Linked DNA regions of Homo sapiens. The protein of the gene in region 4 interacts with the protein of the main gene of each other region in a pairwise test. Each region holds a gene or a part of one and is shown on either strand. Other genes may lie near its edges.

What was found.
Region 1: the proteins of LHX6 (region 4) and WFS1 interact in binary tests that used the Homo sapiens proteins (3 or more experiments, as listed by UniProt).
Region 2: the proteins of LHX6 (region 4) and ZNF76 interact in binary tests that used the Homo sapiens proteins (3 or more experiments, as listed by UniProt).
Region 3: the proteins of LHX6 (region 4) and SNCA interact in binary tests that used the Homo sapiens proteins (3 or more experiments, as listed by UniProt).
Region 5: the proteins of LHX6 (region 4) and ATXN3 interact in binary tests that used the Homo sapiens proteins (3 or more experiments, as listed by UniProt).
Region 6: the proteins of LHX6 (region 4) and NRF1 interact in binary tests that used the Homo sapiens proteins (3 or more experiments, as listed by UniProt).
Region 7: the proteins of LHX6 (region 4) and ATXN1 interact in binary tests that used the Homo sapiens proteins (3 or more experiments, as listed by UniProt).

The regions. Positions count from the first base shown.
Region 1 is NC_000004.12:6,289,500-6,293,849, forward strand, and holds part of WFS1 (wolframin), read left to right. Parts: intron 1-1,697; coding exon 1,698-1,868; intron 1,869-2,417; coding exon 2,418-2,498; intron 2,499-4,350. UniProt on the Homo sapiens protein: Participates in the regulation of cellular Ca(2+) homeostasis, at least partly, by modulating the filling state of the endoplasmic reticulum Ca(2+) store.
Region 2 is NC_000006.12:35,265,385-35,269,734, forward strand, and holds part of ZNF76 (zinc finger protein 76), read left to right. Parts: intron 1-4,350. UniProt on the Homo sapiens protein: May be involved in transcriptional regulation.
Region 3 is NC_000004.12:89,829,812-89,834,161, forward strand, and holds part of SNCA (alpha-synuclein), read right to left. Parts: intron 1-4,350. UniProt on the Homo sapiens protein: Neuronal protein that plays several roles in synaptic activity such as regulation of synaptic vesicle trafficking and subsequent neurotransmitter release.
Region 4 is NC_000009.12:122,211,378-122,215,727, reverse strand, and holds part of LHX6 (LIM/homeobox protein Lhx6), read left to right. Parts: intron 1-1,291; coding exon of another isoform or gene 1,292-1,302; exon of another isoform or gene 1,303-1,344; coding exon 1,345-1,445; intron 1,446-1,658; coding exon 1,659-1,754; intron 1,755-1,947; coding exon 1,948-2,122; intron 2,123-2,331; coding exon of another isoform or gene 2,332-2,492; exon of another isoform or gene 2,493-4,350. UniProt on the Homo sapiens protein: Probable transcription factor required for the expression of a subset of genes involved in interneurons migration and development.
Region 5 is NC_000014.9:92,079,083-92,082,582, reverse strand, and holds part of ATXN3 (ataxin-3 reference isoform), read left to right. Parts: intron 1-116; coding exon 117-283; intron 284-1,521; coding exon 1,522-1,618; exon of another isoform or gene 1,619-1,630; intron 1,631-3,114; exon of another isoform or gene 3,115-3,168; intron 3,169-3,500. UniProt on the Homo sapiens protein: Deubiquitinating enzyme involved in protein homeostasis maintenance, transcription, cytoskeleton regulation, myogenesis and degradation of misfolded chaperone substrates.
Region 6 is NC_000007.14:129,705,129-129,709,478, forward strand, and holds part of NRF1 (nuclear respiratory factor 1), read left to right. Parts: intron 1-3,946; coding exon 3,947-4,105; intron 4,106-4,350. UniProt on the Homo sapiens protein: Transcription factor that activates the expression of the EIF2S1 (EIF2-alpha) gene. Links the transcriptional modulation of key metabolic genes to cellular growth and development.
Region 7 is NC_000006.12:16,306,436-16,310,785, forward strand, and holds part of ATXN1 (ataxin-1), read right to left. Parts: intron 425-4,350; coding exon 1-424. UniProt on the Homo sapiens protein: Chromatin-binding factor that repress Notch signaling in the absence of Notch intracellular domain by acting as a CBF1 corepressor. Binds to the HEY promoter and might assist, along with NCOR2, RBPJ-mediated repression. Binds RNA in vitro.

The DNA.
Region 1 (4,350 bases), on a different chromosome or scaffold from region 4:
GCCCCTGAGCTGATGTCCGTCGAGTCTGGGCAGACCAGCTGAGGGGCTGTGGGCCCACACAGACCTGGACAAGCATGTTCACTTTGGGAGGAGGCAGGCTGACCCTTCATAGATAATCTCTTTCAAACAGAGAGGCAGGGGAGGAAAGGGACGCAGCTCAGGCCAGGGGTGGTGAGTTAGGACGTTGTCCTGCGCAAGGGAAGTGGCTGTCCCTGGTGCCGTGGGGCAGTGTGCTTCCTGAAGGTTCCACGCCTCAGGGAAAGATGAAAGTGGGTGTCACAAAGGTGTTTTTTCTAATGATACCTTTTTTTTCAGATTGTAAGAGTATTTTATGCTTATCATAGAAAACTTGGACTATGTAGAAAACATAAAGATACAAATTACTCATAACCTTGAAGCCCAGAAGCAACTCCCCATATTTTGGTGTATTTCCTTCTGTGTTTGTTGTTGTTGTTTTGAGATGGAGTCTCACTCTGTCGCCCAGGCTAGAGTGCAGGGGTGCGATCTCAAGTCACTGTAACCTCCACCTCCCTGGTTCAAGCAATTCTCCTGCCTCAGCCTTTTGAGTAGCTGAGATTACAGGCGTGCATTACCACACCTAGCTAATTTTTGTATTTTTAGCAGAGACAGGGTTTCATCAGGTTGGCCAGGCTGGTCACAAACTCCTGACCTCAGGGGATCCACCCTCCTTGGCCTCCCAAAGTGATGAGAGTACAGGCGTGAGCCACCATGCCCAGCTTGTATCATATTTTAAGAGTTACATTTATTATACAGAGTCTTCTCTTTGAAAATTAAACTGATGATTTTGAAAAACTAACAGTGGCATTGTTAGCCAGAATTTCTCACCAACCCAGCCTGCTGATTCCAGAGCAGTTGGAATGACCTGGAGGGGGCTCAGGCGGCCCACACGGCTCATTGTTGGGTGCCAGGGATAGCCCAGAGGCTGCTGGGGCAGAGCGTGCAAGGGAGGAGGCCGGTTGGCCCCGTGTTCCCCCAGCTGCACACACCTTCTGATGTGCAGTTGTGCTTTCTGATTTGAAAAGAAATACATGCTCATGTGGAAAATTTTGGAAATGTTCAAAAGGAGAAAAACATCCAGACCCCCGTGCCAGTCCTCCTGCCCTCTGCTTGGTTGTGCCAGTGTCCCAGGCCGTTGGGGGTAAAGGGAGGAAGGCAGCTGCTGACCAGCGGTAAAACCTGCTCTCCCTCTCCCCGCTGTCCAAGCCTTCCTTAGAAAGGGCTGGGCTGTGTGTGAGACAGAGGAAAGCTCTGTAGACACAGGGGTGGCCCTGCCAGTGCACCCAGGCTGGTGACTGCAGTGAGTCCACCCTGGGTTCAAGACAGCTCTGCCTCTTTCTGACTGTGTGACCTTGAGTGAGCCAGAACACAGGCCTGTGCCTCCGGGTCTGCACCTCTGAGAGAGGGGAGGAACAGGAAGAGGCTGCCTTCTTCCCGCCAGCATGTAGGGGGCACTTGGGGGCGTCTGGTGGGAGACCAGTCTGGCCTCCCAGCTGGAGAGTGGGCGTGGCGCGATGTCCTCTTGAGTCAGATGTCCATGCATCCTTCCCTGGTAACCAAGTCCTGACACCTTCTATGAGTCTCGCTCGAAAGCCTTCCAGGCAGAGTTGGCAGGGTCAGAGTGGCACCGAAAGCCTAGGCAGGGCACACAAGGCCTTTGACCACATCCTATCCCTCAGGCATCACGTCCGAGAACGAACGGGAGGTGAGGCAGCTCTCCTCCGAGACCGACCTGGAGAGGGCCGTGCGCAAGGCAGCCCTGGTCATGTACTGGAAGCTCAACCCCAAGAAGAAGAAGCAGGTGGCCGTGGCGGAGCTGCTGGAGAATGTCGGCCAGGTCAACGAGCACGGTGCGAGGATTCACCCTGGGCACCAGCCTTCCCTGGGCGCCAGCCTTCCCACAGGAGCCAGGACCTTCCCATAGGGGCTGGGACCTTCCCTCAGGGGCTGGGTCTTCCCACAGGAGCCGGGACCTTCCCTGTGAGGACAGGGCCCTTCCTTGTGGGGACCAGGGGACCAGAACCTTCCTGTAGAGACCGTGCCCTAGTGGTGAGGTGTGTGGGTGGCATTTTGACAGCATCTGCCCTGGCTCAAGTGCTCACTCATTGAATAAACCAGAGGGTATTCTGCCCAGTGCTCTGTGACCACGTCTACCAATGGGACGGACTGTGTCCATCACCAAGTGGGAGCACGCTACGTGGTGCTGAGTCCACCCCAGCTACTGGAGGTACAGAGGTGTGGCCCCTGCTCTGCCTGCCCTGGGGGCCCTATGATCCCCAGAACGTAGGATGCCCCTGGAACTGGCGTGCCCTAGGAACAGTGCGCCAGTTTCTGGTGGGCTGCAGGGCACGAGGAGATAGTCAACTTGTCTGACTGTTAATCCACCCTGTCCCCTGCAGATGGAGGGGCGCAGCCAGGCCCCGTGCCCAAGTCCCTGCAGAAGCAGAGGCGCATGCTGGAGCGCCTGGTCAGCAGCGAGTGTGAGTGCAGCCCCTGCCCCGTCTCACCCATGCCTCCCAGCCTGCACCTGCAGGGCGACCTCTCCTTCCTGTGCGACTCCATCCTGGCCTGCCCTATCTCACCCGTGCCTCCCAGCCTGCGCCTGCAGGGCGACCTCTCCTTCCTGTGCGACCCCATCCTGGCCCTGCTAGGATCTCAGGCGGTCCGTTTGGGGCTCAGTGTTCTGGACGCTGGGAGTAGACCCTGCCCACCTGGAGCGCACGCACTGGAGGGAAGGCAGACCCAGGACAGAAACCATGATGTGCCAGTCCCTCTTGGACAAGGAAATACTGGGGGTGGGGACTGGCGGGGGGGTCCTGAGTGGGGAAGGATGAGGAGGGCATTAGGGGAAGGGGCTCCGGGCAGAGGGAACAGCATGAGCAAAGGCCCAGGAGACCCAGCAGGGTGTGGAAGGGGCTCTGCCCCAGCGTAGGCCCTTTGTAGGTAGGCAGGGAACAGAGTGGGCAGAGCCTAGGTTGGGGGATAGAGTCTCTGGGGCACACTGAGCTGGGGGTGCCTCTGGGATGTTTGTGGTCAAAGACTGAGAAGAGACGTCACATCCTCCACGTGCAGCTGGCCAGCCTCACTGTCTTCCATCCACGTGGGGTAGACTCTGCAGTCTGAGGCACTGGGAGCTCCTGTCCTGGAGAAGATAGACAGGCAGGAGGCTTGGGGGCTCAGTATCAATGGGGGGATGGGCCAAGACCCAGGTCTGCCACAGACTCTTCTTGTGACATGGGCAGGTCTCATTTTTCTTTCTGGGTGTCAGTTTCCCCTTCTGAACAGTGAGATGATCAGACAAGGGGACTGAAGGACCTCGCCCATCCTAGAAGCCTCTGTGGCATGTAGGGCAGAGTACAGGTGGGAGCACAGATCCCACCTTCCCACTGGGCCCGTGAGGAAACCGTCCATAGGGTGTGGTCAGAGCCCTCGCCTCTGCGTGGGCGGACATGGGTGCTTGCGCTGCTGTTTTCCTGCTCCATTTGGGGGAGACAAAGAAACACCTCACATGGAAGTGGGAAGAAATCTGTGACTCTAGGAAGCCCGAGGACCAGAGAGGCTGTGACAGTGTCCTGCCACCGAGGTGGCATGGTGCCTGCTGTCCTGAAGTGAGGTGCCTCTGGGCAGGAGCAGCCCAGCCTGGGTCTCCATCCTGGGGGGCACTGCAGGCAGAGTCTGGACCCCAACCTCACTTCCCAGTCCCACAGGGGTTTGTGATGAGCCGGGCACACCTGCTGCTGGGCCCTGTCGCTGTTGCTGGGGGCGAGTTAGGAGTCAGCGCTGCCAGCCTGTGGTCCCCTCCGCCAGGCCCTCAGGGACAGGGCCCCAGCACCCCCATTGTTTCCCCTCTATCAGAACGTTCCCATCAGGCATCATCTGTTTCTCTGCCAGCTTTTCCAACAGAACTCCCAGAAAGGGGCGTCTGTCATCCCCTTCTCTCGTCCTCCGTCCTTTGCTCTCAGGCCTCTGCCATGTTATTCCACCAAAGCGGCTCGTCTAGGCCATCAGTGACCCCCCTTGCTCAGTCACTTCTTGTCCTTGTCTGACTTGATCTGTCAGCAGCGTGGGCAGAGATGACTGCTCTTCTCCTTAGAGCCCTCTCCCCCACCAGGCCCGGGGCCCTTGCTGCCACACTGGCTGCTCCTTCTTGGGGTCCCTAGACTGATGTCCTGTCTCTCAGGACAGGACATCCTGCCCAAGGTATTCATCCCTATGAGGACAGGGGCCTTCCTTGTGGGGACCAGGGTCTTCCCGTAGGGACTGTGCTCTGGTAGGGAGATGTGTGGGTGGCATTGGTGACCACTCTCGTGTGTCAGACGCCGTCCTGAACCC
Region 2 (4,350 bases), on a different chromosome or scaffold from region 4:
TAATCCCAGCTACTCGGGAGGCTGAGGCACGAGAATCACTTCAACCCAGGAGGCAGAGGTTGCAGTGAGCTGAGATCACGCTGCTGCACTCCAGCCTGGGCGACAGAGCGAGACTCTGTCTCAAAAAAAAAAAAAAAAGAAGAAGAAGAAGAAGAAAATGCCAGGATTCTGGGTGTTAAAATTTTAAATAGGGTAGTTGAAGAGGTTCCCACTAAAAAGGTAACATTTGAGCAAAGACCTGAAGGAAGTTAGGGGGTAAGTCAAGCATACATCTAGGGGAAATTTATTCCAGTCAGGAAGAACAGCAAACACAAAGGCCCTGAGGCAGGAATGTGCCCTATATATTCAAGAAACATGAGGAAGCCAGCCAATACGGCTGCAGTATATTAGTGAGAGAAGAAATGGCAGATGTTGCGGTGGGGGTGAATTGGGGGCAGATCACACAGGCCACTGGCTTGTAGTGTGAGTTGTGAGTGAGATGGTAGCCATTAGAGAATTCTAGGCAGATAAATAACATGGCCTGACATATTGAAAAGGTCATTGTGGCTGCTGTGTTGAGAATAAGCTATAACGGGGCAAAAATGGAAGGAGAGAAACTGGTTAGGAGGCTACTACAATAGTCTAAACAAGAGAAGTTGGTGGCTTGAACCCAAGGTGAAGCAATGGAAAGGTGAGAAGTGGTTGGCTTCTGGATGTATTTGGAAAGGAGCCAACAGGATTTGCTGATGGACTGGATGTGATATATAAAAGAAATAGCAGTTGAGGGTGGCTACAATTTTTTTTTTTTTCAAGACATCTCGCTCTGTCGCCCACGGTGGAGTGCAGTGGCGTGATCTCAGCTCACTGCAACCTCCGCCTCCTGGGTTCAAGTGATTCTTCTGCCTCAGCCTCCTGAGTAGCTGGGACTACAGGTGCATGCCAGCGCACCCGGCTAATTTTTGTATTTTTAGTAGAGATGGGGTTTCACCATATTTGCCAGGCTGGTCTCAAACTCCTGAACTCGTGATCTGCCTGGCTCCCACATTTTTGGCCTAAGTAACAAAATGGTAAAATTCCCATCTACTGAAATTGGGGAGCCTGGAAGGAGGGCAGGTTGTTAGAAGGAGGAGATAAGGAATTCACTCTTGAACATGTCAAGTTCGAAGTGTTTTTTGGATATCAAAGTCGAGATGTTGAGTAAGCAGCTGGATATTCAAGTCTTTTGGAGCCTAGGAAATGTCTACTCTCAGGAAATAAAAGAACACCATCACCTGGCAAGAGACAGCGGAGTATGGGAAGAACACTGGTGGTCAGGTGTTAGGCCCTGCTCTGCCACCAGGTAGCTATGTGATCCTTTGGGACTCCTCTGGCAACGCAGGCCTCTGTCTCTTCATCTGCAAAATGACTGCTTTATTTTATTTTATTGTCTATTTCTTTTTTTTTTTTTTTTTTTTTTGAGACGGAGTCTCGCTCGTCACCCAGGCTGAAGTGCAGTGGCGCCATCTCGGCTCACTGCAAGCTCTGCCTCCCGGGTTCACGCCATTCTCCTGCCTCAGCCTCCTGAGTAGCTGGGACTACAGGTGCCCACCACCGCGCCCGGCTAATTTTTGTATTTTTAGTAGAGACGGGGTTTCACCGTGTTAACCAGGATGGTCTCTATCTCCTGACTTTGTGATCCGCCCGCCTTGGCCTCCCAAAGTGCTGGGATTACAGGCTTGAGCCACTGCATCCGGCCCCTTATCTGTTTCTTTGACAAGGTCTTGTTCTGTCACCCAGGCTGGAGTGCAGTGGCGCAATCATGGAGGCTCACTGCAGCAGTGACCTCTCCAGCTCAATCAGTCCTCCCATGTCAGCCTCCTGAGTAGCTGGGACTACAGAGATGGGCACCACCACGCCTAGCTAATTTTTGTATTTTTGGTAGAGAGGGTTTCACCATGCTGCCCAGGCTGGTCCTGAACTCCTGGGCTCAAGCCTCCACCTGCCTCGGTCTCCCAAGGTGCTGGGATTACAGGCATGAGTCACCACACCCAGCCAAAATGACCACTTTAGACTAGGAATGAGTTGTGTTCTCAGCCCCTCCTATTGTGGGAGTTGATGAATTAAGTGCTTAGAATAAACATGATAATATATGTGTATCTGAGAGCATTTTGGAAACTGCTGAGTTCTACACCAGGTAGTGGTATTGGCAATAAGATTTCTTCCTTCATTCGCTGAAGTAATACCCAGTGAGTGCCTGCCATGTGGTGGGCACTATGTCACATGAGGATACGATGATGGAGAAGACGAATCTGTGCCCTCAGGGAGCACCGCAGACAACCCCCTGTTGTGGCTTCACTGCCAAGTGCAGACGAAACATGGGGCTGGAGTGTGACATTAGCCAGGGAAAGCTTGTTCCTGATCTGGGTCTCCGTGGAAACAGTGAACGTGCATGTCAAAGATGAGGCAAGATGGTAATCCCGATGAGGGAAAAGTCATCCACTTAGCTGGACTAGGGAAGAGTTGGGAGTGGTTGGGAAGGGTTGGAGTGGTGGGGGCTTCAGTTCCTTCCCTCCTCCATTCTTTCGTTCAACATTTACTTCCTTGCCAGGAGCTTCTCTTAGAAGCTCACAGTTCTGTGGTAGATGAAGAGTTTCATATCTGGTCTCAGGAGTTCAACTTAGATATTACAATAAGCAGAACTGAATCAGGATTCAAATCTGAGCTAAAGAGCTCAGTTAGCTATGTAACCTAGTAGTATTAATCATTTGGTATCTGTGGGCACATTCTTTGTTAGGTGCTAATTAGGCTGAAAGGCATGCTCTCCAGGAACTTAAATTATAATCACTGTAACAGAAAGTAAGAATGTTATTTTCCCCTAAAAGAGTCAGGTGTTAAGGAAAACACACTCCGTGGCAGTGTAACCCTTTAACTGCATCTGGAAACTGTCCCTGTGGCTGTGTTTATTCTTGTGTCATTTAGATGTCTACGTTTATATCGTGAGGAGAGTCTCTTTGACCAGATAAGAGTATAAGATATAGCTCATCCTAATTGACAAAATTAGTCACCCACAAAATTAGTTTAGAGGAGACATAGTCAACATCTACCACGTAATGGAATGGGGAAATTTTGTCCTGGAGAGTGAAAAAAGAAAAAACAAACAAACAAAAAAAACGAAACCTGGCCGGGTGTAGTGGCTCACACCTGTAATCCGCACTTTGGGAGGCTGAGATGGGCAGATCACGAAGTCAGGAATTCAAGACCAGCCTGGCCAACATGGTGAAACCCCATCTCTACTAAAAATACAAAAATTAGCTGGGCATGGTGGCGTGCAGGAGAATTGCTTGAACCAGGACCCAGGAGGCGGAGGTTGCAGTGAGCCAAGATCGCACCATTGCTCTCCAGCCTGGGCTATAGAACAAGACTTCATCTCAAAAAGAGAGAAAAAAAAAAAAAAAACCACCTGCAATACAAATCCAAGTGCAGCTGAAGCCATTGTCTTTAACAGATGGCCCTAACCTGTTTTGAGTGCTGTTTCCTAAAGCTGCCAACAAACTTCAAATGCCTTTTACCCTGGCAGCTATCAGTCAAGATATAGAAATGTGATGGTCTCACAAATCCTATGCAATTGTCTCTTTTGCTGGCAAAAGTATGAGGCCAGCCGGGTGTGGTGGCTCATGTCTGTAATCCCAGCACTTTGGGAGGCTGAGGCGGGTGGTTCACCTGAGGTCAGGAGTTCGAGACCAGCTTGGCAAACATGGTAAAACCCCATCTCTACTAAAAATACAAAAATTTGCCGGGCATGGTGGCAGGCGCCTGTAGTCCCAGCCACTGGGGAGGCTGAGGCAGGAAAATAGCTTGAACCTGGGAGGCGGAGGTTGTGGTGAGCTAAGATCATGCCATTGCACTCCAGCCTGGGCGACAGAGCGAGACTCTGTCTCAAAAAAAAAAAAAAAAAAAAAAATGTATGAGGCGTACTCAGGCTCCTCTCTTCCAGTTCAGAATCAGAAGGATTTGTGATGTTGGACAGGTCATTCGGGGTCTCAGGCTCATTATACTGTCATTACCTGGAAGCCAGAGTGCCTCTTTTCTAGTGCCTCTATTTGACATTCCCTTAGAGCTGGCCCTCTGGTGAATAGTTCATCCCTAAGAAGGCCAGATACAACTTGTTACCCTGGTACTATCTCACTTCATCACTTCATTTGTTGGGAGTTCCTGCTACTTTTGGATGGTTGATAAAGCATGAGACCCATACAGTTAAGATAAGAACCAAGGAACTGGGAGCTCTTTGAGGTTGTAGAACTGACTTGAGGCTTTGATGTTGGGGATTTGGCAGGGGTGCCTAAGACCAGAGTTCTTTCTCTGAGATCATCTTCTCAACCCAGGAAATACTGT
Region 3 (4,350 bases), on a different chromosome or scaffold from region 4:
GAAGTGCTGTGGTTTTGTCACTGATTATAATGGGTTTCTGTTATTTATGTAATGATTTGAAGGCTGAAGAGTTAGCAGCAAAGTTTGTACTTTATGCAATGACTTTCGGTATACTGTGGTAACAGAAATTTGAATTGTGTTGTTAGTGGCTGGTGTTATTTAACTAACCATAGTACCTGGAATTTGTTTGTGCTGGAACTATGCAGAGTGAGAACAGCTGATATTTAAGAGAATATGTTTCAATCTCTATCTCTCATCCTCACCACCTGCACCCCATGTTGTCTTAAAAATGACTAGTAGTAAGAAATGTCTAACAGCTGGAATGCGATCTTTGTTCTTTGCCTTAGCAGTACCTAAGAATTTGACCTTTGGTTAAATTATGAAACATATTCTAAATCAAAGACAATGAGATAGAAGTAGAGAGTAGAATTATGATTATTAGAGGCTGACAACGGTAAGAGGGAGGGGAGGATATGGAGAGGTTGGTTAAAGAATATGAAATTGGAGCCAAATATGAGGAATGAGTTCTAGCATTCTGTAGTACTGTAGGGTGATATACTTAACAATAGTTTATTGCATATGTTCAAAAATCTAGAAGAGAGAATTTTTAATTTTTACTGTTCCCACCACAAAGGAATGATAAATGTTTCAGGTAATGGATATGTTAATTACCCTAATTTGATTATCACACATTGTATACATGTATGGAAATATAATTCTGGATCCCACAATTATATACAATTATTACATATTCACTAAAAATAAAAGAAAAATTAAAAATAGAGTAGCATATGACCCAGCAATCCCTCTTCTGGGTGTAGATCCACAAGAAAAGATTTCAGCATATCTGTTTCCAAGGGCCCCAACACAGTGGCTCTTGCTTGGAATCCCAGTGCTTTGGGAGGCTGAGGCAGGAAGATCACTTATAACTATATAAGGAATTTTAAAAACACTAAAACTAATATTTATTTATTTAGCAAACCAGAATTTAAAACATTAGAAATTAAAGTGTTTTATTTCTTTGTAAAAAACTTATCAAGAGTAATGTAAATAGTGTTTGTCTTCTTCTCATTGTATAACTTCCTATACGGAGTGGACATGTTTTTTATATTTTACAGAATTGTCATACTCTATTCTAAATTTGAATTAGGAGTTTGAGACCAGTCTGGGCAACAGAGTGAGATGCTATATCTACAAAAAATATTAAAAATTAGCCAGGCATGGTAATGTATGCCTGTAGTCTCAGCTACTTGGGAGGCCAAGGCAGGAGGATCTCTTGAGCCCAGAAGTTTGAGGTTACAGTGAGCTATGATAACACCACTCCATTGCAGCCTGGGTGACAGCAAGACCCTGTCTCCAAAAAAGAAAAAAAGAAAAACATAATAGCCACAACTAAAGTGTCTACTGATAGATAGGTAGATAAAAAGATTGTGGTACATAGATACAATGGAATATCAGTCAGCCCTAAAAAAACAAGATCCTACCATTTACAACATGGATGAACCCAGACAAAATTATGCTAAGTGAAATAAGCCAAACACAGAAAGAAAAATATTACATTATCTCACATATATGTGGAAGCTTGAAACAAAATTCAAATATACAGAGACTACGTAAAAAACAGGGTTAATAGGGGTGGAAAAGTAGGTAGAAAATAGGGACATATAGGCCATAGGATCCAAGCAAGTAGCAGATGTGTAAGATGAAAAAGTGTACAGATCTAATGTATGAGGACTGTAGGTGATAAAATTGTACTATATTTGAGATTCATGATAAATAAGTGGATTTTAGCTGCCCTTGCCACAAAAACAACAAAAAAGGTAACTATGAGAGATTATGAATATATTAATTTGCTTCAATATAGTAATTTTTTAGTGTCTAATGTATCTGATAGCATCATGTTGCATACCCTAAATATACACAATTAAATTTATTTTTAAAAAAGAATGCCACTAGGCCGGGTGCAATGGCTCACGCCTGTAATCCCAGCATTTTGGGAGGCCGAGGTCGGGGATGATGAGATCAGGAGTTCGAGACCATCCTGGCTAACATGGTGAAACCCCATCTCTACTAAAAATACAAAAATTAGCCGGGCATGGTGGTGCATGCCTGTAATTTCAGCTACTCAGGAGGCTGAGTCAGGAGAATAACTTGAACCCAGGAGGCGGAGGTTGCAGTGAGCCGAGATCACACCACTGCACTTCAGCCTGGAGTGAAATGACAGATTGAGACCCTATCTCAGAAAAAAAGAAAAAAAAAAGAATGCCACTAAACCACACCATTAGAACTTATAATTAATTATTTTTTATAAATATCTTATGCAACATATTTTATATTTTTGTAGTGCAACCCCAAAGAGATAGGTATATAACTTAAAAAAACGAGATAAATGAGAGTCCTCATAAGGTTACCATGTATCAAACCAATCAGTTGTTCTTTGAGGTCATAATTATTTACTAATAATCTGTAATTGATGGTTAGCCTTTAATTTATGAGTAATCTGTAATTGATAACGTACACCTACAAAATAGGTGCCAAGTGGTTATGTGACTAGCAAGGTATAAATGCTGTAGGGACACCAGAGCTGATGGCTTCCCTGAGCGGAGGTGTCCCACACACACCCTATCTTGTCTTCCCAACCTCAAAAGAGCACAGAGTGGAGAAGAAGGTCAGAAGTAATACCTGAGAGTTTTGAGAACTCAGTTATCCCTGTTGTGCATGTTATGTTGACTTTGTCAGCTTAGTGAGGTGAAGCACATTTTGACTTGAGAATTTGCTATCAATTTCACTGATGGCCACTGCTGCTTATTGAGCAGAGTGGCATTGGAAGACACTCAAAGATCATCATTTTCTTGTATTTATTGCATTTATATTACTGAGCATTATATAAAGATAATTAAATCTTTCTGCTTTTGGATTTAGATCTAATTAATTTCTGAGTCATTTGAAGAAATTTTTGTCTATTAAATTGAAGTATGTTGATTGAAAATTGGTGTACGCAGATAACAAAAATGGAGGGAACAAAACCCATAAAAATAACACTGATCATTAAGGTAGTTCTTCAATGAGTTAAAAAGTAGTTGTTAAAAGTATATTCTTATAAAGGAATGAGATTACTTTTCTTATGAGGCTTCTACCAAACATCTTCAGCCATAAGTGAAATTATAAAATGGTCTTTGGTCGCCTCCAATCTTTCAAACTAGTTATGTAATGAAGGATAAAAGAATAAATGGAAAACGTGTTGGCAAAGTAATTATTCCGTTGGAGAGTTTATTTGATAATAATAACCATGGTTCCTATATATAAAAGTGTGCTCAATTATTCATATGTCCTGTCTTATTATGACATTCCCACAAAAACTGCAAGGTAGTTGCAGTTTTCTAAATCATATTTTTTACTAATCAGGGAAGTGATGCTCAGAGATGTTAAGTACGCTTCCCCAAGACCCTAAAGGTGATAAGTGATGTAGTCTCAACTAAAACTTTGGTTTGTGTGATTAGTGCATGTTCTTTCCACTCTATCAGTAGTCAGCAAGCTACAACATACAAGACAATTCCAGCCCACCACCTGTTTTGATAAATGAAGTTTTATTGGGACACAGCCACACTAGTTATTGTTTATGACTACCTTCACACTTCAACAGCAGAATTGAGACATAGATTTTTTTTTCTTTTTTTTAGACAGGGTATCACTCTGCCACCCAGGCTGGAGTGCAGTGGCTCGATCTCAGCTCACTGCAACCTCTGCAGTGAGCTGTATGGCTCAAGCCATCCTCCTACCTCAGCCTCCTGGGTAGCTGGCAATACACATGCATGCTACCATACCCGGCTAATTTTTGCGTTGTTTGTAGACACAGGGTTTCACCATGTGGCCCAGGCTGGTCTCAAACCCCTGGGCTCAAGTGATCCACCAGCCTCGGGCTCTCAAAGTGCTGGGATTAAAGACCTGAGCCACGGCACCTGGCCAAGACATAGATCTCATGGCTTAAAATACGTGCTATCTGATTCCTTACCCAAAATTTTGCCAATCCCTGGACTATACTATTGTGTCTTCACATGGTCATTTTTTATCTTAAATTCTGTGTGTAAGTTCAACTCTCAATTAGAACTCAGAATGTAACCAATAAAAAATTTATAGAATGTGCTATGTGTTAAATGCCATGAGAGACATTGAAAATGATTTCAATGAACAGTTAAAAGGTAACTAAGTCAAAGAAACTTGTGCTTGCAGAACTTGGAAATCTGAGGACAAACGGAAAGATATTGATAAACTGCATGTCACTGATTCAGTATTCCAAATTCCATCTAAAAAGGTATAATTCACACTTCATAAAATATTTAAAATTAACTC
Region 4 (4,350 bases):
GGGGCATCTAGTGAACTTGGGTTTCACTTGCTGCCTGCTTATCTGCAGTGATGGGCAATGAAATTATCTGCAGTGGTCAGCAAGTCAGCAGTAGAGCTGGGATGGAAACCCAGGAGTCAGAGCTTTCCCACACTGTGGTCCATCAGCGACCACAGGCTCCTTCCACACATGGTCCAACCAGGACCACCTGTAGTTACAACCTTGCCAATTACATCCTAGCTCTCACAGCCACACCTGTCCACAGACTTAACATGCTGAGGAACTTGAAAGCTGGGGCCTCCGATCTCTCTTACTGATCAGCCCTCAGTATTGGCTACTGTTTCACTTTTTAAACATAACACACACACAGATACACACACGTTCATTGTAGAAAAATTAGAAAAGACGGTAAGCAAAAAGAAGAAAATAACGATTGCTCCAAATGCTGCCTTCTTCATATTTTAATGTGTATCTTCTCAGATTTTTTTCCATGTATGTTACAATGTTTGCTTTTTTCCTTCAACATAATTTTTTCCTAATTAAAAAGTTACAATAAATTGTGAACAATGGTTATTTCTGAGTGCTGGAATTACTGGTGATTTTTATTTTCTTCTTTGTGCTTATGGAAATTTTCTGAGATTTTGAGGATATTCAGAACAATGAAGTATTAAAAATAAAATGGGAATATGGTTAGTGTTTTAGTATGACTGTAAAAGTAATATGAGTGGAAAGAGAATATCTAACATATACGCCGGTTAACAAAATTAAACCTTACAGAAGTAAGGCAACATATGATTGTTTTTAAATACCTCAAAAGTTACAGGAATACTGAAAGTAAAAAGTTTCCATAATCACATTCCTGGGAAGTAAACCACTGCCAACACCTTGTTGTATATTCTTACAACCTTTTTTCCTTCCGCTTATTTTTATAAAATTAGGAGCATAGTTCCGTTACTTGCTTGCTTCCTATCTCCTCTAGCCTTTGGTGTCCCCCAGTTTCGCCAGCAGGGAGCCCAGTTTGGGACATTAGGGTCAGCTAGCTTTCGGATTCTAGTTGAAAGGGCCAGGGCAGGGGCTTTCCTTCTCTCTGAGCCTCAGTTTCCTCCCATGTATAATGAGGTAACGCCACCTCTCCTTAGGGCTGTAAGACGTGGTCCAGTCGTGTAAGAAGTGTCCAGTACTAAGCGGACGCTCAGAAACCCCTTCCCCAAAGACTGAGCTCAGGGACTAGGACCCTGGGATCCCTGCTCCCAGCCAACTCCCGCTCCTGACCCTTCCAGGGACAAGCTCCCCCCACCCCCGTCCTTTCCAGGCTGCCACTAGAAGAGATGGGGACGCGTGGTCAGCTGCTTCTATCGCCCCCAGGGAACGGCCTCACGTTGGAGGGGGCAGTGCCCTCGGAACAGGACAGTCAACCCAAGCCGGCCAAGCGCGCGCGGACGTCCTTCACCGCGGAACAGCTGCAGGTACCGCTGCAAGCAGTGGGCGGCGGGGGCGGGGGCCGGGCCGAAAGTGGGCGGGGCCGACAATGTCTCCTGGCTCCGCCCCTCGGGCCGGACCCGGGTGGCGGGGCGGGGCCGCAGCTGCCTGGGGCGTGGCCTGTGGACTGGCGCCGCTGATTGGGCCGGGGTCTCGGAGTCTCTGCGTGCGAGCGCCTCACCGCCCTCCCCGCCCCGCAGGTTATGCAGGCGCAGTTCGCGCAGGACAACAACCCCGACGCTCAGACGCTGCAGAAGCTGGCGGACATGACGGGCCTCAGCCGGAGAGTCATCCAGGTGGGACGGGGGTGGGCGGGGCCTGGGGACCGCGGGCACGCCCCGGAGCTCGTAGCTGGGCTCGGCGCGGAGGGTGGTGCGTGCACGTGGCCATCCTTCTCCAGGAGGCGACGAGGCAGTCCCGCCTGGGGTCTCCCGGCGGCGCGTCCGACTCTTTTCCTCGAGGCTGAGGCTGCCGAGGCTGTCGTTCCAGGTGTGGTTTCAAAACTGCCGGGCGCGTCATAAAAAGCACACGCCGCAACACCCAGTGCCGCCCTCGGGGGCGCCCCCGTCCCGCCTTCCCTCCGCCCTGTCCGACGACATCCACTACACCCCGTTCAGCAGCCCCGAGCGGGCGCGCATGGTCACCCTGCACGGCTACATTGAGAGTAAGTAACCGCAGCGCCGGGAGCCGCTGGGCCTGCGGGGAGGGGGCGCGGAGGAGCGCACGTGGGCGGCTGAGGCCGAGGCGTGGGGTGGAGGGCCTTGGGGAGCCTCGTGGGTGAAGAAGCGGGACCCGAAGTCATTTGGATCTAGGAGTTGGGGGAAGAAGGGTCAAATCTTCGGCTCTGCCTCAGTGGAGCGGGATCCTTCATAGAGGCAAGCGATTCAGCAGCCATTCAAAAAATGCCTTCAAAGCACCCACAATGTGCCAGTGCCCGGAGACTGGGGAGAGAACAGGCTGGACAAGGTACCTACTCTGTGGAGCCTGCGTTCTGGTGGGCATGGAAAAATAGGCAGATGAGTGTGTCGTTTTAAGTGGGATGATTCCTGTAGGAAAGGTGCTGGGTAGGAGTGACTGGAGATGCTGCGGGGTGGAAGGGAAGGGGCTGGGCTGCCTTTCAGCAAGCAGAGACTGAAAGGATGGATAGGATTTAGTGAGGTACCTGGAGTGGGGGAACGGAATGCACGCAGGCCCTGGCCCAGAAAGCATCGTGGCATGGGTGTGTTCTGGGGAGCAGAAGGCCAGTGTGATGGGAGTGTCCAGGGCTGTGAGGCCTTAGGCAAGTCACCTAACCTCCTTGAGCCCTGGTTTCCTCATCTGTAACCTGGGATGTCAATAATGCCAGCCTCACAGGGTTGTGAGACACCATTCATGCATTCAGTAGCTATATCTTGAGTGCCTTCTGTGTTCTTTGCACTGGGATACGACAGTGAACACAGTAGACCAAAGCTTCTGTGCTCCTGGGGTTTGCACTCCAGCATGGGAGATGGTGGAGATGATAAAGTAACAGGGAGGGAGCAGGCATGTCCGTGGCAGGGAGTACTGTGGCGGAGATGCAGGGGCAAGCGGGTCATGGTGAAGTGACTTGTGAGCGGGAACCTGGAGGAGTGAGGGAGGAGCCCCGGGGATTTCTGGAGGATGAGTGTTCAGTGAATCTGCTGCTGAGCAGGTGCCTATCACAGATTGTCTTTCCCTTTGAAGTTGTTCCCATCAATTGTTTCCTCTAAGCTGGGCATGACCAAAAAAATGTAAATGACTGCGATGCACACAGACACAATTCCTCCCTTCTCTGGCTCCATGTAAGAGGGAAAAAGAAGGGAAATCAGACAGAGAACTGCTGCTTACTGACCATATGCCATATATTCTACTGACTGTGTCTCTAAACATCAGAGGCCACCATCTCCTTGAATAGATGAGGAAACCAAGGGCCCACTGTAAGTTAGTGGGAGCCGGTATGCCTTAATGATCGAGTGTGGGCTTTGGTTTCAGATTGCCAGGCTTCACATCCCAGCCCTGCCATTTACTAGCTGTGTGACAGTGGGTGAGTTTCTTAGCTTTCTTGCATACTCATTCCCTCATCTGTAAAAATGAGGACAACAGTATCTCAAAGCAGTGTTCTGAGCATCAAACGAGGTAACTGAAAATCCTCAACATTCAGCAAGTGCCGCATAAGTATTGGCTGCTCTTGTGATGGTGGGAGTGGTTTTGGTTGGCAGAACTAGGAGTGCAGAGCCCTGTCTTCGCACCAGGCTGCCAGTTGGAAACCATGTCTCTTTATATAGTTCCATTTCTGAACTATCTGCTCAATAGGAGCGACATTTTCCCCCTTTCTTTTCTAAACAATAACTATATTCAGGCTGCACAGAGCCTGTTAAAGGTGCCAAGGATCAGGGGCGCTATAAGTACCAGGGGTCTGAGCTACCTGCTAATACTTGGTGTAGAGTCAATAAGAAATCTAGATGATCCCTTTGGACTTGGGGCCATGACCTCCAGAGTCCCTGCCAGGACTCTGTCCATACACTCTGTTGACCAAACTTAGATCTGTCTTTGCTGCTTAGAGAAGAGGCTGAGGTGCCCTCTCCTCTTACCCTTGTGGTGGAACTCAGCTTGGGGAAGAAGAGGTTGGGGGTGTGTGCACCTGCACCTCCTGCTGCATGACTGACTGAGAGTCACCACAGCAGTTTGCTCTATGGTAAACTACAGTCATGGAGTTGTGAATTTTCTGAAGCCTTAAGCTGGGAAGCTAATGAAAGTGTTAGAACCAGACCCCAGAAAAATGAGTTTTTCTGTAGAGTTTGCTCTGCGGTTAACTAAAGTCACAGAATACTGAGTTTCCTGGAGGCTTCGAGCTTGGAATCTGATAAAAGCTTTGGAACCAGACCCCAGAAAAAT
Region 5 (3,500 bases), on a different chromosome or scaffold from region 4:
TGCCAGAAAACATTTTAAGTTTTGACTTACTTAAAGCCTTTACATTACAAATGCCTTTATGTTATGTCTAAAATAGAAGATTGGTTGCAGTTATTACCAGTGCTTTTGTTCTTTAGAGTCCATAAAACAGACCTGGAACGAGTGTTAGAAGCAAATGATGGCTCAGGAATGTTAGACGAAGATGAGGAGGATTTGCAGAGGGCTCTGGCACTAAGTCGCCAAGAAATTGACATGGAAGATGAGGAAGCAGATCTCCGCAGGGCTATTCAGCTAAGTATGCAAGGTAAAGACATTCTGATGTGTGTTGTATTCATTGCTGAAGAATTGATTCCAATTATTCTTAGATTTCATGGAAGTTAATGTACTCTTAGAGGTGTTTTGACAATTACTGCAGAAGCAATAGCTATATAGTGGGCTTTCCCTTTAGATTTCTTATAATGGAAATCACTTTTTACAACCTATATTTTATTAGGAGTAGTTATATTTTTACTCCTGGTTATTTTATTTGGTTTCAACACTGTACTAACACAATAGTAAATTGTGGTTTTAATCTTTGTGGGTATCAGTTGACCCTTATCCAAATCAGCTGTTACATAAATATGTGCCATTAGACACTATGGAAGGGCCTGGACAGGGAATATAAACTGATTTTACAAAAACCCAACATTTATTGGCTATGCAACTTAAACCGTAAGCCCACTTTGGTGGGCCCAGTTTTTTAGTGATATAAACTATCAATAGAGAAAAGCGAAAACATATCCCCTAGACAATCTAGGCAAAGAAAAATGTTAAGACATAGCTCAAAGTAGCTTAATTAAAAGTTTGAAGTGGGTTTTTTGTTTTATTTTTTTCTAACTCATATGTATTTGCTTCTACTTTCTAATGAAATTATTTATCAGTTGATTTCCTTAGATATCTAAATAAAATTGAAATTTCATTAATGGGAAGATTATTTTTATCCTGAACTTTTCTTGCCTCTATGCATGCCTCTGAGTACTCCATATGGTGTGCAATCCCATTTTTGATTAATAGAGTCCTGCTGGATTAGCAGGGACAGAAATCAGCTTTAGATTTCTTTCTTTTTTTTTTTTCTTTCTTTTTTTTTTTTTTTTTTTTTGAGTCAGAGTCTCACTGTCGCCCAGCCTGGAGTGCAGTGATCTTGGCTCACTGCAACCCCTGCCTCCGAGGTTCAAGCGATTCTCCTGCCTCAGCCTCCTGAGTAGCTGGGACTACAGGCGCCTACCACCACGCCCAGCTAATTTTTTGTACTTTTAGTAGAGATAGGGTTTTGCCCTTTTGGCCAGGCTGGTCTTGAACTCCTGACCTCAGGTGATCCACCTGCCTTGGCCTCCCAAAGTGCTGGGATTACATGTGTGAGCCACCACGCCCAGCCAGAAGAGTAGAATATTCTTAAAGAGAAAACGTTTTAAAGGCTTACTCAAATGAGTATAAACAAACATATTGTTGCTTGAATTGGTAAATACAGTGATTGGTTTTTGTTGTGTTGTGTTTTGTTTTCAGGTAGTTCCAGAAACATATCTCAAGATATGACACAGACATCAGGTACAAATCTTACTTCAGAAGAGCTTCGGAAGAGACGAGAAGCCTACTTTGAAAAGTAAAGTAGTTGGTACAAGTTAAAGTAGCATGTTTAATATTTGCTTTGGCTATTTTGTCTATTTGTAAATGGTTACTGCCTGAATCCTGTGAATATTTGAATGTATTTTTTAAAAATTTACAGCAAATAGGACGGGCACGGTGGCTTACGCCTGTGATGCTAGCAGTTTGGGAGGCCAAGGCGGGCAGATTGCCTGAGGTCAGGAGTTCGAGACCAGCCTGGGCAACACAGTGAAACCCCATCTCTACTAAAAATACAAAAGAATCAGCTGGGCATGGAAGCGTGCGCCTGTAGTCCCAGCTGCTTGGGAGGCTGAGCCAGGAGAATTGCTTGAACCCGGGACGTGGAGGTTGCAGTGAGCCGAGATCGCACCACTGCCCTCCAGACTGGGTGACAGAGTGAGACTCCGTCTCCAAAAATATATGTATATATATATAAATAAAAATAAAAATTTACGGCAAATAACATGAAACAAAAAAACCTTGCCCCAATACTGGATAAATTTTTTAAACTGAGTGAAGGAAACCTTATAAAATTTCATTTATTAAAAGAAAAATGAAATTAGGACAAGACAAGAAGAATGCCAATTGATCCTTTGGATGTACTTCTTGCTTACCTGATTAACCCTGCAAAATTCCTCTACCAATCAGTACGAAAAACAGCTTTGGAGGTATGGGAGCGCATTCCCAAATAGACGTGGTAGTTCATTTAGCTGCTCATGGCCGCTTCAGGCAGTCCTGTAAGCCTGTTAGCATCAGGGGAATGGATGCAAACCATAAATCTGGATCAACTCCTAAAACCTTACCTTGTGCCCAGCCTTGTAAGTGCTTGCTAAATAGGAATTCCACCATATGAAAATACATTCTTTTCAAGTAACTATCATTCAGACTTTTGTCCCCCACTTTTTTTTTTTAAAGAAAAATAAAAGGCTGGGCACGGTGGCTTACGTCTGTAATCCCACCATTTTAGGAGGCCAAGGCAGGTGGATCACCTGAGGTCAGGAATTCAAGACCAGCCTGACCAACATGGTGAAACCTCATCTCTACTAAAAATACAAAAATTAGCCGGGCATGGTGGTGGGTGCCTGTAATCCCAGCTACTTGGGAGGCTCAGACAGGAGAATCGCTTGAATCTGGGAGGCAGAAGTTGCAGTGAGCTGAGATAACGCCATTGCACTCCAGCCTGGGGGACAAGAGCGAGACTTCGTCTCAAAAAAAAAGAGAAAGAAAACTTCATGTTAAAGATTACAAGATAAATAATCAGACCCACTGATCCTAGGTCAGAAAACAGAGTCATAGCTCAATCTGACTTACTATTTGCTGTATTTCATCCATTCTGAGATGCACATAGTTTCACATTTCAATGTCTCTGAAATTGAGAAGCATCTTACAGTCATAATTGACAGTATATTAGCAGCACCTATAAATATTGGCTCATTTTACATTTGATGGTATAATGAAGAAAATATTTACCTTTTTTTCTGTTTTGTTTTTAAGTCACAACTCAGAAGTAGATGAAGGAAAATTCTGATCAGCTGACATCCTCTTAATGTGAGATATTTCTAGTCTTTATTCAGTATAGATTAATGGCTAATTATATGTTAAATTTCAAAGTAGTGCTTATTAGTGCTTTTTACTTTTAAGTTTCAAAATTAACTTTTTTATTATAATAAACTCCAAATTTATACAAAAGTAGAAAAACTAGCATACTCCTGTTTATGACCCAGATTCAACAAATACTAGCACACGGCCAATCTTGCTTTTTTTTTTTTTTTTTTTTGAGATGGAGTCTTGCTCTGTTGCCCAGGCTGGAGTGCAATGGCACAATTTCTGCTCACTGCAACCTCTGCCTCCTGAGTTCAAGCGATTCTCCCACTTCAGCC
Region 6 (4,350 bases), on a different chromosome or scaffold from region 4:
GCTTGATGACTGAGGTAATAATAATAAAACTTCTATTAATTAATATACCTGCTATCTCAGCCTCTTCATTGACCTTGTATATTTGCTATTATTACTGTTTTGCAGATGAGAACATTAATATTCAGAGCCAACTCTGAGTCTTGTGGGTTTTTTTTGTTTCTTGGTTTGTTTTTTGTTTTTGAGATGGAGTCTTGCTCTGTTGCCCAGGCTGGAGTGTAGTTGAGCGATCGTAGCTCACTGCAACCTCCGCCTCCCGGGATTAAGCGATTCTCCTGCCTCAGCCTCCTGAGTAGCTGGCATTACAGGTATGTGCCACCATGCCTGGCTAATTTTTGTATTTTTAGTAAAGACGGTGTTTCACCATGTTGGCCAGGTGGGTCTCAAATTCCTGACCTCAGGCAGTCTGCTCTCCTTGACCTTCCAGAGTGCTGGGATTACAGGCGTGAGCCACCAAGCCCGGCCCTTGTGTTCTTTTTGGTAGAAAGAGCTAACTTAAGAGAAGTGAGTCTGAGTGCACTGACTCACACCTGAAATCCCAGCACTTTGGGTGGTTGAGGCAGGAGGATTGCTTCAGTCCAGGAGTTGGAGATTGGCCTGGGCAATGTAGGGAGACCCCTTCTCTACAAAAAGAAAAAAAAGAAAAGAAGGAAAAGTAAAGAAAAAAAATAGCTGGGCATGGTGGCATGCGCCTTTAGTCCCAACTACTGAAGGCTGAAACAGGAGGATCCCTTGAGCCCTGGAGGTTGAGGCTGCATTGAACTGTGATCATGCCACTGCACTCCAGCCTGGGCCACAGAGCAAGATCCGAGAGTGAGAGAGAGAGAGAGAGAGAATGAATGAATAGTTAGTATATGTTCCACAAAGAATGTAGGACTTTTCTGGGCACTAAAGAATGAGTGGCGGCATTAGAATAGTAGCATGGAAAATAGTCCAGCCAGGGGACAGAACAAAGGCAAAGAAGCGGGAATGGGCTTAGCAGCTCTTAAGACAGTGCAGAGATTTGTCTGATGGAGGACCAAGGCTGAGTGGTGGGAATTAATGGGAACTGACTGTAGTGTGAGGCCAGATTGTGGTGGGTCTGAAAAGCTGGGCAGAAGGATCTAGTTTAGTTGCCATAGTTAAAAGACATTTGGAGGTGTTTTGAGCATTGGAGCTATGTAGGTAACATTTAGGAAAACCTCTCAGGCAAGGATATGTGGGAAGAGGGAATGAAGGGAGAACTTGGAGTTTCCCAAGAAAGCCAACTAGAAGGATACACTAGCCTTGGGCCAAAAAATTAGAATAAAGGTGGGGCCGGAGAAGAAGGGATAGACACCAGAGACGTTTCAAAGAAAACAAAAGAACTGGACTTGCAATGTGTGACTAGGTAAGTGTTGAAGGAGAAAAGTAAAGATAACTTTGACATTTTTAGTTTGAGTGGCCGGGGAAAGGGTGGTTTTCTACTTGCTAAGATAAAAAAGTTGAGAAGACAAGTAGATTGGAGAGAGGGTAGGGTAGGAGTTTAAGTGAAGAGGCTGATGCTGAGCCCACCTTTCAAGTAACATTGAGTTATTGGAACTCAGTTGGAAGGCCTGGTGGGAGAGCCGAAGGAAGACTTGAGGGTGAAAGATATCCACGTCCAGGTGCCAACGTGACCCAGAACTGAGGAGCATAAGGAACTATTGGTGCAAATAGGGTGAGGCGTCAGAAGTGAAGCGATCACCAGAATTAGGGAATATAGAGGGTTCCAGGTGGATCTGAGCAGACTCTGTCAGTCTAGTATTCTCCACAGTGAGTGCTTTCTGATCACTTTAGGATTTCTGTTTTGTTTGTTTGGTTTAAGACAGGGTCTTGCTCTGTCACCCGCTTTAGGATTTTTGTTTTGTTTTGTTTTGTTTTGTTTTGAGACAAGGTCTCACTCTGTCACCCAGGCTGGAGTGAAGTGGCACCATCATGGCTCACTGCATCCTTGACCTCCTGAGCTCAAGCGATCCTCCTGCCTCAGCCTCTCTAGTAGCTGGGACTACAGGCACGTGCCACTGTAACCGACTGAGTTTTGTATTTTTGGTAGAGACAGAGTCCCACTGTGTTGCCCAAGCTGGTCTCAAACTCCTGGTCTCAAGCATTCTGCCTGCCTGAGCCTCCCAAGGTGCAGGGATTATAGGCATGAGCCACTGCACCCAACCCACTTTAGGATTTTGTTAATTTAGAATTATTTAGCCTTCTCATTTCATTTTCTCCAGACTCTCCTAGGTATGAATATAAAGAATTCTCCTTTTTGGAAACTGTTAATGGTATTCAAAGAAAAGGGAGTTTATGAAAGTCTATATCAATTTAATCTATACCTCTGAGAAAGCCATTTTTTTTAACATGAAGAAGTATAAAATATTGTGTGTGAAGATTAAGCCCTTTCTTGCTCTATGTATTTGAGCCTAGAAAAAGACACACTCCCAAGAAATTAGAATAAAGGGAAAAATGACTTTGAGATGTACTTTCTTAAAATAACTGAAGTAATGACCGCATGAGCCAGCTGATGGGTTTTTAAATGGATACGTTTCTATCAGCCTGCTGCTTGATGCCAGAGCCAAATATATATGGAGTGTATTATATCATATCCTGTAGGCAGGAGACTGTTGGGGCATTGGGGGACTTAGAGAGGTGAAGTGGCAGGCTTGGCACAGGAATTAACAGCATGGCTACCGTCAACCAGAACTTTATTAGGTCAACATTACTGATTGGGTTCATGGTTCCCTATTATGTAACAATTTGTATCATCTTCTCGTAAAATAATATCTAATATTTATTATAAGAATGATAAGAATACCTGATATTTATAGAAATCTTTAATATTAAAGTGTTGCTGTACTCATTCTCTCATTAATACTTAATTATTCTCATTTCTGTTTTTTCTTGTTTTACTTTGTAACTACAAATCCACACCCCCGAGTCTGATTCATTGCTAAAAGTGGCCTCTTTTTGGTTTTCAGCTGCAGGGGCAGTATGGGTGCATCCTTAGTTGCAGGATGCTACTTATATCTGGAGTGCTATAGACCACCAGGTTAAAAGGAAGACAGTAGGTCTGGGAAGGAGGAATAGATCATAAATTGATAAACTGCTTTTCTTGCCAGAAATCATTATCAGCGATTAAGAATATTCACAAAGTAGACCCTCCCCCAACACACACAGAGTGTGGTTACTATGCCAGGAAATAAGAATGGCAGTTGTCTTTGTGGTTTAAAACCTGTTTGGTCTGGATTTGATTTGTAAAATAAATCTGAATGAAGTCCATAATGCATTTAAATTCACACATGCTTTACTATGTCTATATGTCAGACTCATGGACAGTGGCCTAGCTTACTGGAAAATTTCTAGAAGAGTTTTAGGGTTATTTTCCCTTTTTATTAAGTTAAAGGCCTGTTTGTTTTCCTATATTTTATAATCAGCCACCTTATTGAATTCTCATTATTGTTTGTAGTAGTTTTTCATTTGATCTCTTTGGAATTCTCTAGATATAAGGTGACTTCATCTATAAATAATAATGATTTTATCAGCTCGCCTCTTATTTCTCTCTTATCTAATTGCATGGATTCCTACTTCCAGAACAGTGTTGAAAACACCCCGAGTTTGGCACCTTACATGCATGAAAACTGTAGAAGGGAAATAAGCTATAGTACCAGTAATATCTTGGGAAGCAGAAATTAAACTTAGGGGTAGATATTCTTACTCTTAGAGGAACAAGTCTACAAAATGCAGCCTAAGGTGCACTTTATCAACATATTTATAATTCTCAACCACCCATGGAGATATAGGAACCTATGGAAAACAGTGGGTTTTCATCAGTCACATCTTAGAATTCTCTGGGACCTTCCTGGAAACCTCTCTGTTTTATAAGGTTAGAATTTAAGGAGTCATAAACACACCCCAGATGTCTTTCATGAGTATTGATGACCACACTGTTCTCTTCCAGGCCCAGCTTCGGGCATTTATCCCAGAGATGCTCAAGTACTCTACAGGTCGGGGAAAACCAGGCTGGGGGAAAGAAAGCTGCAAGCCCATCTGGTGGCCTGAAGATATCCCCTGGGCAAATGTCCGGAGTGATGTCCGCACAGAAGAGCAAAAGCAGAGGGTGAGAGTTCCTCTGACTGAGTTGCCTGGTTGCTTTTCCATCCTAAATTAACCACCTCAATTTTTGTCATTTCTACATCTTGTGCTAGAAAGTCTTTGTGTAATAGTTAAGCCTGTCCCTCCAAAGACTGATATTCTTTGATTTATAGCCTTTTCCATTTGTCGCTCCATCACTATACTATAAAGAGAAGACTGGGTTGAGTTGATGAATTTAAAATGTGTCTTCGGGGTTGCCTTTTGGAGCAG
Region 7 (4,350 bases), on a different chromosome or scaffold from region 4:
TGCGGCTCTCTGGCGCCGACCACCTCCTCTTCCTCGTTGCCGCGGGCTTGCTGGGTTCTATTTTGGTGAGGAAGGGCGCTGCAGGCAATCCCATTTTCTCTGGAAACTTCAGTTCGCCATTCTCAGAGAGCATCTGGGCACTCCCCTGGTTGATTCCGTTTTCCTGCTCGGCATACCTGTGTCTGCTGCCCGCCAGGCCGTCGGCCTTTGAGTGCTTCAGCAGGACGCTGGCGGGATCCACGGGCTGGCCCTTTTTAACAGAGCCGTTCTTCAGGTTCTTGAGGGTAAGCGAGATGCAGACATCCCCAACTGAGAGTTTGGAACACGGCAAATCAAAGAGCTGGCTGGTTCTCTCCGGACAGCAGGATGACCAGCCCTGTCCAAACACAAAAAAAGGATACTCTACCAAAACTTCAACGCTGACCTGTGGAAACAGGGAGAGACAGAGAGAGGAAGAAGGAAGGGAACAAATGAAAACATTTTATTCTTGTTTGATTTTATGCACACACACAGGTATGAACTCACACAGACACACACAGGCTGAATGGGGGAAAATGACTCAGTTTGCAAACCTCCCTCTCCCCCAGCCACACACTATAAATGAGGCTCTTCTCTTTGGGTTGTACCTCTACTTGCCATAGGCAGAAGCCAGTGAAAAGGTCATCAATATTCAAAATATTCCATCAAGTGTTAGCTCTATAGCTGGTCTCTGTTAGAACCAGTCAATCGAACCCCAGTAATGACAGAGCACCCACTTAGCTTTCAGCACCAAGCTAGGCTCTGCAGGTGGCTCACAAGCCCAGCGCGGTCTTAGATTTTATGAGCTCAATGGACAACTGCTATTATCATACAGGACAGGACTAAACATGGATCAGAGTGAGACTGTGAGTTCCAAGAAGCAGGCACAGTGTGTTTATCACTGAGTCCCCAGCCCCTAAAAGGATGCTTGGTGGCTGGGCACAGTGGCTCATGCCTGTAATCCCAGCACTTTGGGACACCAAGGTGGGTGGATCATTTGAGGTCAGGAGTTCAAGACCAGCCTGGCCAACATGGGGAAACCCCGTCTCCACTAAAAATAAAAAAAAAAAATTAGCCATGCGTGGTGGCGGGCACCTGTAATCCCAGCTACTTGGGAGGCTGAAACACTAGAATCACTTGAACCCAGGAGGCAGATGTTGCAGCGAGCCGAGATCGTGCCACTGGGCGATCCAGCCTGGGCCACAGAGTGAGACTCCGTCTCAAAAAAAAAAAAAAAAAGTCAATTTCCAATGTCCTTTCTAGATGTAGTAGACTAGGTAATTTGGACCAACCCTCCTTCTGAGGACAACTAAAAACTCTGAACAAAAATATAAGCAAACAAATAAATTTAAAAACTCTGGACAAAATGTTTAAACTTTTTTTCTTATAGTACTGGACAGCAAATAAGATAGTAAAAAGGCCAGGCGCGGTGGCTCATGCCTGTAATCCCAGCACTTTGGGAGGCCAAGGCGCGTGGATCACCTGAGGTCAGGAGTTTGAGACCAGCCTGGCTACCATGGCAAAACCCCATCTCTACTAAAAATACAAAACTTAGCCAGGTGTGGTGGTGGGCCCCTATAATCCCAGCTACTCAGGAGGCTGAGGCAGGAGAATCGTTTGAGTCCGGGGGACGAAGGTTGCAGTGAGCCAAGATCGTGCCACTTTACTCTGAGACCAGCCTGGCCAGCATGGTGAAACCCTGTCCCTACTAAAAATACAAAAATTAGCCAGGTGTGGTGGCAGGCGCCTATAATCCCAGCTACTCAGGAGGCTGAGGCAAGAGAATCGCTTGAACCCGGGAGGCGGAGGCTGCAGTGAACCGAGATCATGCCACTTCACTCCAGCCTGGGCGACAGAGTGAAACTCCGTCACACACACACACACACACACACACACACACACACACACACACACACTTCCTGGGTTGGATCAGGAAAAGATGATGGCCCAGAGAGGTGAAGCTGGTGTTGGGGGCCTGTTTTCTCCTGAAGGCACTTGAACATTCCAAAGTGGAGCAGTTGGGAAACCAAGTGGGCTTTTGATAGTGTTAAGAGCATAGGGAACAGGTAATGGAGTTCAGGATACACCAAGGGAGGGTGTTCTCTGGTGAGCCCCATTCTTTTGAGTTGTGACCCCAAAGCACTGTCCCTTAGAGGAGACAGTGAACCACAAGCCAACAGGCCTTTCAAGGTCTGAAGCTCAGATTGACTCATCTGAGTCCCTAAAACTGGATTAAGGTCTTGAATTACTTTCACAATTTTGCAAATAAAAGCATTCAATTTAAAAAAGGGGGGTGGTGGTCATGAGGAGACCAGATAGCTTGTATAAGCACTAGCAAAATATCAGATCTTAAAAAAGGATGCACCAGGGCTTCTCATATAGAGTCATACATATAGACTTTACAAAGACTATGCTTACAATAATTAAGAAGATTAAAGACAGCTTGAGAATTTTGATAGGAAACTAGAATCTGTTTTTAAAAGATCCATGAAGCCAGGCATGGTGGCTCATGCCTGTAATCTCAGTACTTTGGGAGGCTGAGACAGGGAGGATCACTTGAGGCCAGGAGTTTCAGACCAGTCTGGGCAACAAAATGAGACCCCGTTTCTACAGAAATTTAAAAAAAAATAGCCTAGTGTGGTGATGCGTGCCTGTAGTCCCAACTACTCAGGAGGCTGAGGCAGGAGGATCTTGAGCCCAGGAGTTAGAGGTTGCAGTGAGCTATGATCACAAGACTGCACTCCAGCCTGGACAACAGAGTGAGACTCTGTCTCTAAAAAAAAAAAAAATAAATAATAATAATAATAATAATTAATTAATTAAAAAAGGTCTATGAGAATTGTAGAATTAAAATATACACCACTGAAATCAAGAATGCAATGAGCTTTCCAGTTGAATAGACATGGATTAAGAAAGAATTCAGGAACTGGATTCTCTAATTAGAGCTTTAGAAGAGACTCCACAGAGTGAACATAGAGACAAAAAGATGGTCAATATGGAGGAGAGGGTAAGAGACACATAGGATACATTGAGAGGGGCTAACAGACACATAATTTGAATCCTAGGAGGAGGAAGAGAGGGAGATAATAGGGCAGAAGTTAATACTTGAGGAGGTAATGGCTAAGAATTTTCCCAAACTGAAGAAGGATAATAAGACAGTTTCAAGAAGGCCTAGCCCCAAACAGGAAAAATAAACAAAAAGAAATCCTCACTGAGGCAGATGAGAATTAAACTGCTATAAATCAAAGACATCTTGTAAACTAAACAGGAAAAAATATCGTTAAAAGCCTCTAGAACAGGCTGGGTGTGGTGGCTCCTGCCTGTAATCCCAGCACTTTGGGAGGCCGAGGTGGGTGGATTACCTGAGGTCAGGAGTTTGAGACCAGTCTGGCCAACATGGTGAAACCCCATCTCTACTAAAAATGCAAAAATTAGCTGGGCATGGTGGCAGGAACCTGTAATCCCAGCTACTCGGGGGGCTGAGGCAGGAGAATCACTTGAACCCGGGAGGCGGAGGTTGCAGTGAGCCAAGATCGTTGCAGTGAGCCAAGATCGTTGCAGTGAGCCAAGATCATTCCATCACACTCTAGACTGGGCGACAATAGAGAAACTCCATTAAAAAAAAAAAGCCTCTAGAACAAAATACATATTATCTCCAAATAAGCAACAATGGAACTCACAGTTTACATCTCAACAAAAATAATGGAAGCCAGTAGACAATGGAGACAATGGAATATCTTTACAGTGCTAAAGAAAAAGAATTGTCAATGGCGAATTCTATATGGAGCAAAAAGATCCTTCCAGAATGAAGGCAAAATAGAGACATGTTCAGACAAACAGTAATTAAAAGAATTCACCATCAACAGATCTGCATTATAGAAAATACTAAAAGGTATTCTTTAGGTAGAGAAAAAACAAATCTAGATTGAAGTTTGTACAGGGAGGAATGAAGAGGAATGAAAATGGTAGATACATGGTGAATCTGAATGAATATTGGCTATATGTAACAATATTTAAAATATTGTTGGATTCTTTTTTTCTTTTTGTGAGAGGGAGTCTTGCTCTGTCGCCCAGGCTGGAGTGCAGTGGCGCGATCTCGGCTCACTGCAATCTCCGCCTCCCGGGTTCAAGCGAGTCTCCTGCCTCAGACTCCCAAGTAGCTGGGACTACAGGTATGCACCACCACCACCACGCCCAGCTACTTTTTGTATTTTTAGTAGAGTGGGGGCTTCACCATGTTGGCCAGGATGGTCTCGATATCCTGACCTCATGATCCACCCGCCTCAGTCTCCCAAAGTGCTGGGATTACAGGCGTGAGCCACCGTGTCAGGC